Linked DNA regions of Homo sapiens. The protein of the gene in region 1 purifies or fractionates together with the protein of each later gene. This does not show direct contact. Each region holds a gene or a part of one and is shown in the gene's direction. Other genes may lie near its edges.

Region 1 (3,651 bases):
TGAGTAGCTAGGATTACAGGTGTGTGCCACCACAGCCCAGCTAATTTTTGTGTTTTTAGTAGGGACGGGGTTTCACCATATTGGTCAGGCTGGTCTCTCAAACTCCTGTCATATGTTTTTAAAAGGTTCTTACAAGCTCCATGAGACTACCGGTCAGAACAAAATTGTCCTTATTGAAATATGGTTCATTTTAGTGATACGATGTTCCAAGTAAGATCTTATGGTTAAGACCTCTATCTAGGTATATTTTCCTGGTGGACCAAGGAGAGAACAAATAAAAATTTCACTTTTTGTGAGAATGACGGCAAGACCTAGATACCTTTTAATTTAGTATTTAGCCAGGTGTGATGGCACATGCCTGAAGTCCCAGCTATTCAGGTGGCTGAGGAGGGAGGATCGCTTAACTCAGGAGTTTCAGGCTGTAGTGCGCTATGCCATTCAGGTGTCCACTTTAAGTTTGGCATCAATATGGTGATCTCCCAGGAGTAGAAGACCACCAGGCTGCCTAAGAAGGAATGAACTGGTCCACGTCAAAACTCCTATGCTGATCGTAGTGGGATTGCACCTATGAATAGCCACTGCCCTCCAGCCTAGGTAACATAGCAAGATCCCATCTCTTTAAAAATAGTTTTTTAACTAATTTTTTTTTCAGATGGAGTCTTACTCTGTTGCCCAGGCTGGAGTGCAGTGGTGCGATCTCAGCTCACTGCAACCTCCACCTCCCAGGTTCAAGCAATTCTCCTGCCTCAGCCTCCTGCATAGTTGGGATTATGGGCACGCGCCACCACGCCCAGCTAATTTTTGTATTTTTAGTAGAGACACAGTTTCGCCATGTTGGCCACGCTGGTCTCGAACTCCTGACCTCAGGTGATCTGCCCGCCTTGCCCTCCCAAAGTGCTGGGATTACAGGCGTGAGCCATCACACCCGGCCTTAACTAATTTTTTTATTTTTTTCTGAGTCAGGGTCTCAACCTGTTGCCCAGTCTGGCATGCAATGGTGTGATCTCAGCTCACTGCAAACCCTGTTTCTCAGGTTCAAGTGAAACTTCCACCTCAGCCTCCCGAGTAGCTAGGATTACAGTGCATGCCACCATGCTCAGCTAATTTTTAAAAACTTTTGGTAGGCAGGGCATGGTGGCTTATGCCTGTAATCCCAGCACTTTGGGATGCCAAGGTGGGCAGATCACTTGAGATCAGGAGTTCGAGACCAGCCTGGCCAACATGGTGAAACCCCGTCGCTACTAAAAAATACAAAACTTAGCCGGTCGTGATGGCAGGTGCCTATAATCCCAGCTACTGAGGAGGCTGAGGCAGGAGACTTGCTTGAGCCCTGGAGGCAGAGGCTGCAATGAGCTGACATCGCACCACTGCACTCTAGCCTGGGTGACAGAGCAAGACCCTGTCTCGAAAAGACAAGAAGGGAGGAAAGCAGGGGGAGAGGAGGGGAGGAAAGGAGAGGCGAGGGGAGGGGAGGGGAGGCGAGGGGAAGGGAGGGGAGGGGATGGGATTTGTAGAAATGAGCTCTCGCTATATTGCCCAGGCTGGTCTCAAACTCCTGGGCTCAAGAAATTCTCCTGTCTTGGCCTCACAAAGTGCTGGGATTACAGGCATGAGTCACCATGCCCAGCCCTAATTAATTTTTTTAAGTTTATTTAGTGCTTAAATCCAGCTAATTCTGACTTCACAATTGAGTTTATGTTATACTCTTTTTGTGGATCGGGCTCACTTTTATTTGCAATATCAATTCTAATGTTTAATATTATGTGGCATCATATTACTTGTATTAACTTAGATTATGTGGCATCATATTGCTTGTGTCACTGTAACCCTGAGCCCTGTGCCTAATGTTAAATATTGTCTTTGTTTTTTCCTCAGATAGTCCCTAAGAAGAGTCCTAGAAGCACCTACCCTCTCATTTTACAGATGAGCAGATGAGCAACTTGTACAAAAGTCACCTAATTTGCCACCTAATGCCAATTCCAGGACTAGGACTATAGCTTTTTTTCTTTTGAGACAGGTCTCACTAAGATAGACAGCCTCACTATCTTGCCCAGGCTGCTCTCAAACTTCTGGCCTCAAGCAATCCTCCTGCGTTGGCCTTCCAAACTGCTAGTATTACAGATATGTACCACTGCACCCAGCCAGGACTATAGATTTTTCTAATCCTAGTCAAGTATTTCTAGTAAGCCATATTTATAAAATACCCACTTGGAACTGATGAGACAGGTTTCAGAAATGTTTGCTGCATGCGCTCATTGTCTGAATCATTGTTTCAGGTTGCTCCGGTTGCTAAGAAGACTATGAACAAGTCAGAGAACCTGCTGTTTGCTGGTTCATCATTAGCATCACAAGTCCATGCTGCTGCCGTTAATGGAGATAAGGGTGCTCTACAGAGGCTCATCGTAGGTAAGCAGTCCCCTTAAGTACAGAAACTTTAAAAGCAACTGTTTGTCCTGAGGAAGTTTGTTAATGTTAGTTTTAATTTGCAATGTACTCATACATTTTAATGGAAATATGTTATTATTTATATTTTCTTCCAACACATGAACAAGAAAGGAATTAAGTCCTAAAACTTAAAAATATGGGTTAGGATTAGGTGAAAAGTACTTGAGAAATTTCTATGTATTTAGCACTAAGTCTAGATAGATATTCTAAGGTACTAAGGGAATGAATTCATCTTTATGTTAACAGATCTCGAATGAAACAGTGGATAATCTTTTAACATTTAATATATACCCAAAGTATTAAAGTTTACAAATGATTTAATTTTTAATGATTTAAAATTGATTCAATGTTCCCCCTGTGATTTGCATATATAAGTGATATATAGAGAGGTCCAATGCAGGAGTTCTAGAGGAGAGAATAAAGAGAACAAAGAATAGCTAAGAATTTTCTAGAACCTTAGCTTCCTGCTAAAGCAGAGCAAAGATCCATCTTTCTATCACAAATCCAGATATTCACAAGTTGCAAATCCCAAAGAGAAAAAAATAAAAATATATTATTTGTAGTCTTTATTCACACCAGTGTCTGATGACATCATGATTGACAACTTGGGCTACAAAATAAAGTCCAAATTACTTGAACTTTCATACCTGTTCCTTCCGACTTTGTTTTTACCCTACATTTGCAGTTTCTCCAGGAACTTCTACTGGTGTACCGTAACCTCTGGCTAAGCTAGAGGTTACTTCTATTTCCCAATAAGCCATGAATTTTGTCTCACTTTCTCCATATGTTCTGTTTCCCCACCTTTTTTCTATCTGCTACTCTGTTAACCTTCTTCTGTGCTAAACAAACTCCTACTTATCTTTAAAGACAAAACTATTGTATCTCACACTCTGTGAAGATTTCTCTTCCTCTGCTTATCCTTACTTTACCTCAGCTATCTACATTCACTGGAACTTGACATTTTCCACCACCTCCAAATCACTCAAACATTCTACCATTCAACTAAAACTCTTACTTTCAGCTCACTTACTGATGACAAACAATAGTTTTCCATGCTCACTGAGACCTCCAATCCACTAGCTTCTCTAGTTTTGACCATCAGTTTTCCTTCTGTCTTTTCCTTCCTCACTACTCAGCCTTGATTCTATGTCTGTTATTAAAATCCTTCTCTTGGAAAAATTCCCTTTTTTTTTTTTTTTTTTTTTT
Region 2 (3,651 bases), on another chromosome or scaffold:
CTCACTGCTCATGTTAGCGATGGTGTTAGGCATGGGTATGTGACCTGGTCCTAGACAGTGAGTGGAGGAGAAACCTGGAGTGGGGTTTGAGGGGAGCATTGTCCCGCGTAGTCAGATGAGACAGCAGAGAGACCTGCTCCTCCCTGCTCCCTTTGACCTCTGCTGCAGAGAGGACTGCGCTGCATACAGTGGCCTGGGGATGACATGGACGAGAAGGGAAGACCAGACCCAGGTGGCATCACTGCTAAGTCAGCAGTGTACAGAAGTGTCCACCCGCAGACTTCCAGAGCAAGACAGCTAAATATGGGGTCCTGTTCCCAAGCTGTCGAGCATCCTGGTGCTGGTGGTTTCTAGCTGAGGAACTGTGTTCAAGTTATCGTTAGATGATAACGGCTCTGGAGACCCTGGTGGGAGAGCAACTGACCTACATATCTCTCTCTCCACGTACCTGGAGTGGAGCTGTGGCATGTGTGACAGTGATCCTTTCTATTGCTAAGAAACTTGAGGAATGGCTTTCTACATTTTTACAGCTCTTTTTGGTGCCCTCAGCCGTGAGTGGTGTTCAATTTGGAAAGGCTGTTAAGTGTTACAGTGGGTCCGTCTACAGCTGGGAAGGGTCCTGGCCTAAAACCCACTTAAGAAAACAAATGAGCAGCAACAGTACATCCAAAGCCATGTAAATAAATATGTCCCGCTCCTCCACTGTCCAGCTGCATGGCCTTAATTCTCTGAGCCTCAGTTTCCTCATTTGTGTGAACAGCATGATGAACGATAGTGTCTGCTACCAGAGCTGTAAGGAGCAGCACTGAGCACGCCCAGCAGCCGGAGGACAGCACCTGGCTGGCAGGGAGTGCACGAATGTGCTGTTGTGTGTGTCAGTGTGCGCACGAGAGAGAGAGAGAGAGAGAGAGAGAGAAATCTGGAAGGAGACCAACCAATCCAAAATTACGCTCAGGAGGCTGGGCCAGTGACTGACTTTAGTTTATCTATATTTGCTCTTTTTTTCCACAACTTTAGAAAGTGAACTTACTCACTTTTGTGGGTTCTAAAACTACTTTGAAAAAGAAAGAAAAAAATAGTAAATTACCCCCAAAATATTATAATGGTTACCTCTAAGAAGTAAAAAGAACATTTTTCATTTCTTTAGACATTTCTGTAGATTTCATTTTCCTTATTGCACGCATATTAGTTTTAAATCAGGAAAAAAAATAAGTCACATGGTTATAGTCACGGGTAAACCACAGGCACAGGAAAGCCCAGGAAAGCAGCTGACGGCTATCCTGGGCACAGTGGGGCGGGCTGTCTCAGGCATAAAGGGATGGCTATCCTGGGCACAGCGGGGCGGGTTGTCCTGGAGGCGGGCTGCACCATCCTCATGGGGGCCCTCCAGTGGGGCTTTCCTGTCTCCTGAGTGTACACAGGCCCCAGTGAAGGAGCCCGGTGTGGAGCCCCATACCACAGCATGTTTCAGTGTCTGCTATATTGTGAGCCTAAGCCACCCACCACAGGGCTTGACCCTGCGACCGTCCTCTCATTTCTAGAACGGGAAAGCACAGTGCTTCTCCTTGAGGGTTAAAAGGATGCTGCTGGGTGTCAGGGACTTAGCCTAGCGCCTGGGAGGTAGGTGGAGTGAATGTGAGTTGTTTCTCTCCCCTGCCTGCTGGCACCTGAGCCCCAGGCCTGCCTGCTCTTGTCTTCTGCAGGCCCCGCAGGGTGGAGCCCGTCTGCTCAGGGTTGCAGGCCCAGATTCTCCACTGCTACCGAGATCGCCCGCATGAGGTGCTGCTGTGCTCGGACCTGGTCAAGGCATACCAGCGCTGCGTGAGCGCCGCCCACAAGGTAAGGCCTTGCCTGCCTCCCAGGTTTCCAAGGGCCTTGGGAGGTAGGCGAGGTACCTCTATCTAGCATTGGAGATCTCTGCCTGCCTTTTCCTGTTAGAATCAGATGCTCCACTTGGAGGTCTCTGCATTTGCCAAGGGAGGGATTCTTCGCTTTCCTCAGTCACCTGCACACTCTCCTGGCTGCTTCCAGGAGCGCCTTGGACATCTGGCCCCAGGGAGATGATCCCTGTTGCGTTTGCCCTATTAGGCTGGGTGGGAGCAGGCTGGGTAAAGTCAGGCCCCACCTTCAAGGGCCGGGCCCCTTGTGGGTGCCGGGGACTTCTTAGCCCTCGGCACTTAGGGGTGGGAGGGTGGCAGAGGCCCGAGTGCAGAGTGGGGGTCCCAGCAAGGATAGGCCATCTGGAAGAGGAGTGGGAGCAGATGTGGCCATCAGAAGCTGCTCACAGCCACCCTGCCCTGAGCTGGTCTACAGGGGTGTGCTGGCTTGGCCTTCCTGGTGAGTGGTCCCAAGCCTCATGTGCTCTCTGGTCACCTCCCACTCCAGTGGGCCTCGGTTGTCCTGGATGCCTGTGATGCGCTCCCAGCCAGCTCCTACTGCCTTCCTCCCCCACCCCCAACTGCTGCTCTCTATCCTAGATAAGTCCTCCCCCTTCCCAGGTCCCGTAGCGTCCTCTGGTGCAGTCAGGCTGTTCCCAGCCATACCTCACCCTTGCCCCACCCCAACAGGACAGCTCCCACCTTGGGGAGCATCATTCACTCTCAGAACACCTAGTTTGGGCTCCCCAAGGAGTGCGGCCTGTTTGTGAAAATGTATGGGAGAAACAACAGGACGAGGTCTCCTTTCCCACGTAAAAGCCTCTTTGGCCTGAGTAGGAGACAGGCTGCTTTAGGTACTTGGGATGGAAAAGGCTGAGGCCAGATGCTCTGTGCTCTCCAGCCATGTCCAAGGGGAGATCTGTCCCACTGAACTGAGCGGGGTCCTGCAGCCCCAGGCCTGCAAGAGCTTCCTTGGGTCATGCCCTGCTCACACCCATCTGCCAAGGCTGATTGTTCCACTCTTTGCTGGTCACAGCCCCGTCCAGCACCGACTGTCCCTTCATGGCCAGAACACAGCCCAGAAGTAGCTCCACACAGGATGAGTGGTCGCAAGGCCTCTGTCAGCCTTCCAAGAGAGGGAAGCCCTGGGTAGGACAGGCGGCCTCCTCCTCCATCTCAGAGGATGGAAGGCTGCTCACTCTGCTTCCACGTGGGCAGGAGGCGCTGGGGCACTGGGTAGGCTGGGCCAGACCAGGGCCCTTCGCACCGACCAGACACTTAGCTCCCTACTCACCAGCAAAGTGAAGCCTCCAGATCCTCCACACACCCAATCAAGGGCAGCTCCGAGTCTCTGTTCATCACACACCTAACTCTTTACCGAGGGATCTGCTGCAGCCTCTTGGCTTCCTGGCAGGGCCTACGCCTCAGTGGCCAGCCCTAGACTCCATCCTCTCTCCATCCAGCCCCACCTCTGTGGTAGTTTTCAGCCCCTACCCACCACCCCTAAGAGTATTTCTTTAACAAACACACCTCACCAATATATCTTCCTCGCACCAAGGCAAAAATGTGATTACCAAGGAAGACAGATCACATTAAACCCCAGTGTATTCCCTGAGAGAGGCTCTGGGACACTGCCAGGTCTGGCTCCCTCCTTCCCGGCCCCTACCCCTGACATGACTAGCAAAGAAACCAGAGACTGAGCAATGGCAGTGCCAGAGGCCTGCCTGCTCTCCCCACGTGCTGCCTTGGCAGTGTGTGTGCATTTGGAGACGGC

Evidence for each region.
Region 2: the proteins of INVS (region 1) and CHCHD6 purify together in Homo sapiens (affinity purification with mass spectrometry; one large-scale study listed by BioGRID and IntAct). This does not show direct contact.

The regions. Positions count from the first base shown.
Region 1 is NC_000009.12:100,102,222-100,105,872, forward strand, and holds part of INVS (inversin), read left to right. Parts: intron 1-2,276; 5' UTR 2,277-2,300; coding exon 2,301-2,406; intron 2,407-3,651. UniProt on the Homo sapiens protein: Required for normal renal development and establishment of left-right axis. Probably acts as a molecular switch between different Wnt signaling pathways.
Region 2 is NC_000003.12:126,955,713-126,959,363, forward strand, and holds part of CHCHD6 (MICOS complex subunit MIC25), read left to right. Parts: intron 1-1,703; coding exon 1,704-1,839; intron 1,840-3,651. UniProt on the Homo sapiens protein: Component of the MICOS complex, a large protein complex of the mitochondrial inner membrane that plays crucial roles in the maintenance of crista junctions, inner membrane architecture, and formation of contact sites to the outer membrane.